Linked DNA regions of Homo sapiens. The protein of the gene in region 1 interacts with the protein of each later gene in a biochemical or structural test. Each region holds a gene or a part of one and is shown in the gene's direction. Other genes may lie near its edges.

Region 1 (3,746 bases):
CGCCCTACCCTCCGCTACGCGCCGTCTCTCCAAGAAATACTAATTCCACTTCCTCCAAAAATAGGATGCAGAATTGTTCGAATGGCTCCATTCATTCCTGGTGCGGGCCCTTTAAGGGGTGGTGCGCCCCCCGCCCCCTTTCCGCCCGCACTGGCTCGCGGCGCCTTCCCGCCACCAGCGCCCGCTGACTTCCACAACTAAATTTGGACGGAGTGACGTAGGGCAGTCGCGCGGGCCGCTTCCGGTTGCCCATATTAGGACAGGGCCCGTGATCGCCTTAGCGGCCGGCGGCGGGGCTTCCGGGGGGGGGGCGCGGAGGGGCGGGGCTTTGCGCTCCGGCCACGCCCCTCCCCATCCCCGACCCGGGCAGCCGGAGCAGGCTGGAGCCCCAGGCTTCCTGACTCGCATTCCAGCCGGGTGGGGGAAGAGGAGAGTTTCACTTCCTTCCCTCCAGGGGCCAGGAAGGCGTGACGCCAGGAAAGCACCCCGCAGCGGGTAGGGGCGACCTGAGGGCTCCCAGGGACGCCATCTCCCAGAGACGCTGCAGAACGACCCTGCATACACAGGAGACGACCCGCTGAGGCCCCCTTCATCCCATCTCTCCTCTTCCCAATTATTTCCCCCATACAAGGCCCCCTCCCAGGTTATTCCTGACCCCTGCCCCACACTGATCTTCTCAGGCCTTGGGACACCCTCCCGTCCCGCCCTTCCCCCGCACGCTGGGAACTCAAAAGTTATTCCCCCCTAAAATACCCTTCCCAAACTCGTCCCCATTCAACGATGGTGCCAGACTGCGACGACCTGCCGAAGACGCAGGCCGTCCCCACCCCGCTAACCTTACCACGGAGACCCCACAATGATTTCCCCAGCCCAGGCGCTATCTCTGAGACCCCACGCAGCAACTCTGACGCGCAAGGGGGCGACCCTCCGAGGACTCCCTCAGATAACCCGCCCACCCTCCAGGGGAGACCAGGCCCCCTATCACTCAAAAAAAGTGCTTTCCCGAAGCTCCCCAACACACAGCGCCACTGTCACACATAGGGACGACCCTGAGTCCCTCCGCTGATATTCCTGGCCCCTACCCAGACGGAGACCCCACACACAGAGGGCCCCCCTGGAGACCATCCTCAAAGCCACCACCCGCTACCCCCAGGCTCGCACCCAGAAAGACTCCGCGCTTCTGAAGAAACCCACCTCCACGCACTTTCTCAAAGGTGACCTCCCCCCGCTGCTGGCATATCTGGGACCCCCTCACGACCACCTCGCCCCAAGGCGACCTCGAAGTGCCCCCAACTCCGCCACTTCTCAGGAAAGAGATTGGGAGAATGCGGCAGAACTCCCCGGAGGAGCAGGCCCGCTCCTCACCGCGCCCCCGCAGGGAGAAGGGAGGACCACCTCTCCCCCAGACCCTAGCCAAACCTGACACTCGGGACCCTGGGATGGGACGATCTCCCAGGTGCCAGCTCAGGGAGTCCATGAAAAGCTTCAACGAATCGAATGAGCCCCTTCCCCAGCCATAATACCCAGCCGCCAGAGATGAGGGAGGCTATCATTATTTACATTGCCCGTGCCTGGAAGGGAAACTGAAGTTGCGCAGGAACAATCCGAGGAACTGGGCCTTGAACCGAAATTCCGAACTCGGACCCGAATAGGCCCAGACAGAACTCCGACACCGCCCCCTACGGTGCGGCACGAGAGGGCTAAGGGGCGGGGGCATGTGCACCGGAAGCTGCCTCTGCCCACAACCAAGATGGCTGAGGAGAGGGCGGAAGTGTCCGCACGTCGGGCCTCCGAGGCTTCTCTTTCTCCCCTGGCGGTCCGGCTCTCGATGGTGGCGTGACGGGGGCGGGGGTGGCGGCGCGTTCTCCTCGGTTGGGAGGGAACCAGCCCGCGAACCCAGGCCGGGAGGGGGGTTCGGCCTGGGGGGGAAGGGACTGACATGTCTCTCGAAGACCCCTTTTTTGTAGTCCGAGGGTGAGTGACAACGACGGGGGAGGGCGGAGGGTGCTCTGTACCCAAGCCAGCCAGTGCCCGGGTGCCGGCCCCAGCGTGCCCGGCGGGCTGGGCAAGGCCGTCGGGGTGCAGAGTGGGAGGCGCACGCAGGGGTATATAGGGGTCTCCGGAGTCCCCCATGCGTTTGGGTTTGCAGTCGGGGGCAGAGGCAGGCGGGAGGACCGCCTGCCCCCAGCCGCGCCCGCCGTGCCCCTGCCCGCAGCGAGGTGCAGAAGGCGGTGAACACGGCCCGCGGGCTGTACCAGCGCTGGTGCGAGCTCCTGCAGGAAAGCGCGGCGGTCGGACGCGAGGAGCTGGACTGGACGACCAATGAGCTGCGGAATGGCCTGCGCAGCATCGAGTGGGACCTCGAGGACCTGGAAGAGACCATCGATATCCTGGGGCTTTGTGGCAGAGGGTGGCATGGGAGAGCCCATTGCGGTGGCAGCCCACCTTCGGGTAGGGCTGGACCCCTAGGGACGGGGATGATATCTGGCTCCGGCCTTGACCCTTGACTCTCAGCCCACGTATAGTGGAAGCCAACCCAGGCAAGTTCAAGCTCCCAGCCGGGGACCTGCAGGAGAGAAAGGTGTTCGTGGAGCGGATGCGAGAGGCAGTCCAGGTCAGGAAAGGTCCTGCAGGCGGGGAGTGGGGGAAGGTTTGAGTGTGTTTTTTTTTCTTTCTTTCTTTCTTTTTTTTTTTTTTTTTTGAGACAGAGCCTCGCTCTGTCGCCCAGGCTGGAGTACAGTGTTGCAATCTCGGCTCACTGCAACCTCCGCCTCCCAGGCTCAAGCGATTCTTGTGTCTCAGTCTCCTGAGTAGCTGGGACTACAGGTGCCTGCCACGATACCCGGCTAAGTTTTGTGTTTTTAGTAGAGACGGGGTTTCACCATGTTGATCAGGCTGGTCTCGAACTCCTGACCTCAGGTGATCCACCCGGCTTGGTCTCTCAAAGTGCTAGGATTACAGGCGTGAGCCACCGCGCCCAGCCTGAGTGTCTTTCCTCCCTAATGCTGTCCTTACCTCCAGGAAATGAAGGACCATATGGTCAGCCCAACAGCCGTAGCATTTTTGGAGAGGAATAACAGAGAGGTAAGCCTTCCTGACCCACCCTGCCCACCTGAGCCCCTGGGGGTAACCAAGCCAGATCCCTCTGTGCGTGTTCACCTGTCCCTTTTGCGACAGTGCCCGTCCTCTCTGTGGGCAGTTATCTTCTTGCTGTCTACCTGCCTGCACTTTCTCGGTGTGTGCACCTGAACCTCTCTATGTGTATATGTCCGTGGGTTCCTCTCTACTGTGTCCTCTGGGTCTATACTGGTTTCCTGTTGCAGGAGAGGGCTGGGGGCCTGTGTACCTATCTCCTTTCTGCTTCCATGCCATTTGTCCTGTGTGCACCTGTTTCCAGGACGCATGCCTGCCTTTTACTCTTTTTTTTTTCTTTGAGACAGAGTCTTGTTCTGTTGCCCAGGCTGGAGTGCAGTGGCTTGATCTCAGCTCACTGCAACCTCTGCCTCCTGGGTTCAAGCGATTCTCCTGCCTCAGCCTCCCAAGTAGCTGGGATTACAGGTGCTCGTCACCATGCCAGGGTAACTTCTGTATTTTTTTTTTTTTTTTTTTGAGATGGAGTTTCACTCTTGTTGCCCAGGCTGGAGTGCAATGGTGCAATCTCGGCTCACCGCAATCTCCGCCTCCTGGGTTCAAACAATTCTCCTGCCTCAGCCTCCCGAGTAGCTGGGATTATAGGCATACGCCAC
Region 2 (3,746 bases), on another chromosome or scaffold:
CTCAACTAAGCAGCCATAGATCATATGTTAAAAAATGGGCGTGACTGTGTTCCAATAAGAGTTACGGAAAATGGGATATGAATTGCATATGATTTTCAGGTGTCATGAAATGTTATTTTTTTCCCAACCATTTACAAATGAGAAAACCATTCTAGCTCACAGACCATATGAAAACAGGTGGTGAGCTGTGTTTGGCCTGCAGGATCCCTGGCAAAGAACAAGTAAACCAGTGAGTTTTTCCATTCCAACCTTCCTCCAACAGCCCTTCATAAGTAATGTTTCAAGGGCCACTTTGATGAAGAAAGTCTTTTTCTCTTTTTCCTCCATTCCAACTCTGTGTCCTAATCTGAACTCCAGATCGTTCCCTGTCTTCATGAGCTCTTCACCTTTGTGCACAGCTGCACTTTTGTCCAAGTCAGAACCCTGGGAGAGCAGCTCAGGAGGCTGAGGTGGGAGGGGAGGTCAAGGTTGGAGTGAGCCAAAGATAGCACCACTGCACTCCAGCCTGGATGAAGAGCAAAACCCAGTCTCAAAAAAAAAGGAAAAGAGAACCCTGAGAGTTATCCTCCACATTTCCACCTAACCCTTCACTCAGCACATTCCATCAGTCACTTAAGCTCTGCTGAGTCTGTCCTTTTTTTTTCAATAATAGGGGGCGGGTCTCACTACGTTGTCCAGGCCAGTATTGACCTCCTGGGCTCAATCAATTCTCCCACCTCTGCCTTCCAAAGTGCTGGGATTACAGGCGTGAGCCACTGTGCCCGGCCTTAGGGGTTCTTAAATGTGAGTGTGTATCAGAACTACTTGGGAACTTTCTAAAAAGAAGCTAGATCTGAGAGAATCCCAGAGTCTTTTTTTTTTTTTCTTGCTTTGTTGCCCAGGCTGGAGTGCAGTGGCACCATCGCAGCTCAAGCAGTTCCCCCACCTCAGCCTCCCGAGTAGCTGGGACCACAGGCGTGCGCCATCATCCTGGCTAATTTTTGTTTTGTTTTTTTTGAGACAGAGTCTCGCTCTGTCATCCAGGCTGGAGTGCAGTGGCGAGATCTAGGCTCACTGCAACCTCTGCCTACCGGGTTCAAGCGATTCTTCTGCCTCAGTCTCCGAGTAGCTGGGACTACAGGCGCGCGCTACCACACCCGGCTAATTTTTGTATTTTTAGTAGAGACGGGTGTTTCACCATATTGGCCAGGCTGGTCTCCAACTCCTGACCTTGTGATCCGCGCCCCCACCCCCCCGGCCTCCCTAAGTGCTGGGATTACAGGCGTGTGCCACCGCGCCTGGCCTGTATTTTTTTTTTATAGAGACGGAGTTTCGCCATTTTGCCCAGGCTGGTCTCGAACTCCTGGGCTCAAGCGATCCACCCGCCTCGACCTCCCCAGTGCTGGGATTACGGGAGTGCCCGGCGCAGCTCAGCGCAGAGACTTACAATGCGCCACAGATAGTCCTGAAGGCAATTCTGATGCACGTCAGAGGACCAGGCCCTAAGAAGAACTGCGCTAGAGGCGTGGTACAGAATAGTGTACATGCATTTAATCCTCGTAGCCCCCCTGTGAAGTATGTACCCCAATTTTAGGAATGGGATAAACTGAGCCACTGCCAGTGGCAGGATCCCAGGAACACTCTACTCTGGCCTCACGTCCCGCATCCGTCCATTGCATCTGGGCACATATTCCGTGGGCCCCTTGCCTGCGAGAGTGCAGGTTGGGGAGCCACTACCCGTCCCCCTTCTGGGACAGCAGCAACCCCAGGCAGTTCCACAAAATGCTTCCACCCAGGAAACTGGGGGAATTCAGGGCTCTCCCGGAACCTTTGCACCCGGGGAAGACAGGTGCGGGGGAACTCTAGTCTCGAAGGACCTAGGGCTGCAGGGGGACGTTTCACCTGAAGGACTGCCTCGTTTCAACAACAACTTTATGGCTCCCGGAAGTGCCTCCTCCCCGTCCCCTTCCTTTCCAGCCTCACGCCCGTGGGCTGCAGTTGGAACGATGGCGGCGGCAGCTGCCGCCGGGCCTAGCCCGGGGTCTGGACCTGGGGACTCCCCAGAAGGGCCCGAGGGGGAGGCTCCGGAGCGTCGGCGGAAGGCGCACGGGATGCTGAAGCTTTACTACGGCCTCTCGGAAGGGGAGGCGGCGGGACGCCCCGCGGGGCCCGACCCCCTGGACCCGACTGATCTGAACGGGGCGCACTTCGACCCGGAAGTTTACCTAGACAAGGTGTGTGCGCACGGGGAGTGGGGGGGTGCGGGGAGGGGGGAAGGGAACCAGGCCCCTGCTATATTGCTCCCCCAGATCATGCCTCCGACTTTTTGTGAGGTTCAGGAGAGCAGGTGTTCATAAGAGGACGAACCTCGGCCAGGGAGTACGAGCAGCTGAGGCGTCTGAGGGGATGTGAGTAGGACTGGACTGGCCTGAGGTGATGCGGCATCTGAGGTCTTCTGGGCTGATGTGATAGGCCCGGAATTGGGGGCGTGGCCCAAGCGTTGACAGGCGCGGGGCTGGGCTTAGGCCGAGCCCCAGGATTTCAAATGCTGACAAACACCAAACACGGTTGAACCTAGTAACCCCTGAGCTAGGCCACTTAGGGCCCCCTGCCTGGGATTCCTGACAGCCGGCGGGGGTTTGCGGGGTGGGTGGGGATCAGAGATTTCTTGCCCTGAAAGCCTATCAGCTGCAGGCAAGGCTGGGGGACATGAATGCCTCCTGACCCGAACACTAACCACCCAACTTCTTCAGCTGCGTAGAGAGTGCCCTCTGGCCCAGTTGATGGACAGTGAGACGGACATGGTGCGGCAGATCCGGGCTCTAGACAGCGACATGCAGACCCTGGTCTATGAGAACTACAACAAGTTCATCTCAGCCACAGGTGATCCCCACGGGGACACACCCTCCAAAGTCTCACAGCCCCCATTCTCCCACCTGTGTTGGGAAAACCAGCAAGGGATTTAGAGGGGGGAGACTCAGATTCCAGTCTTGTCCTGACATTATTCCATTCTCACCTCCTTTCCTTTGAGCCTTCGTTGTCAGACTACTATAGAGATAATAGCTACTCTCAGAGGGTTGTCTTAAGTACCAAAGGAGAGAAAAGACAAAAGGAGATTAGTTGTTTATTTTTTAGAGACAATGTCTTGTTCTGTCTCCCAGGCTGGAGGGCAGTAGCATGATCATGGCTCACTGCAGCCTCGACATCCCAGGCTCATGTGATCCTTCTGGATCCTACCAAAGCACTGGGATTACGGGTGTGAGTCCCTGGCCCAGCCCAAAATGAAATTTTAAAATGAAATGTATTTATCTGAAGCACTTAAAAGGCCAGGCATGGTGGCTCATGCCTGTAATCCCAGCACTTTGGGAGGCTGAAGTGGGAGGATCACTTGAGCCTAAGAGTTTAAGATTGACCTGGGAAATATAGTGGGACTCCATCTCTACAAAAAAATAAAAAATAAAAATTAGCTGGACAAGATGGCGTATGCCTGTAGTCCCAGCTACTCAGGAGACTGAGGAGGGAGGATCACATGAGCCTGGGAGGTCGAGGCTGCAGTGAGCTGTGCTTGTACCACTTCACTTCAACTTGGGCAACAGAGCAAGACCCTGTCTCAAAAAAAAGAAAGTATCTATCTGAAGAAGCATCCCAGACACTAGGCTGGGCACAGTGGCTCATGCCTGTAATCCCAGCACTTTGGGAGGCCGAGGCAGGTGGATCACCTGAGGTCAGGAGTTCGAGACCAGCCTGGCCAATATGGTGAAACCCCA

Evidence for each region. Proteins that work in one complex are often made in the same cells at the same time.
Region 2: the proteins of STX10 (region 1) and VPS51 interact in a biophysical measurement, tested with the Homo sapiens proteins (one study listed by IntAct).

The regions. Positions count from the first base shown.
Region 1 is NC_000019.10:13,148,367-13,152,112, reverse strand, and holds the start of STX10 (syntaxin-10), read left to right. Parts: upstream 1-1,737; 5' UTR 1,738-1,939; coding exon 1,940-1,974; intron 1,975-2,215; coding exon 2,216-2,385; intron 2,386-2,519; coding exon 2,520-2,614; intron 2,615-3,021; coding exon 3,022-3,084; intron 3,085-3,746. UniProt on the Homo sapiens protein: SNARE involved in vesicular transport from the late endosomes to the trans-Golgi network.
Region 2 is NC_000011.10:65,094,266-65,098,011, forward strand, and holds the start of VPS51 (vacuolar protein sorting-associated protein 51 homolog), read left to right. Parts: upstream 1-1,948; 5' UTR 1,949-1,985; coding exon 1,986-2,213; intron 2,214-2,732; coding exon 2,733-2,862; intron 2,863-3,746. UniProt on the Homo sapiens protein: Acts as a component of the GARP complex that is involved in retrograde transport from early and late endosomes to the trans-Golgi network (TGN).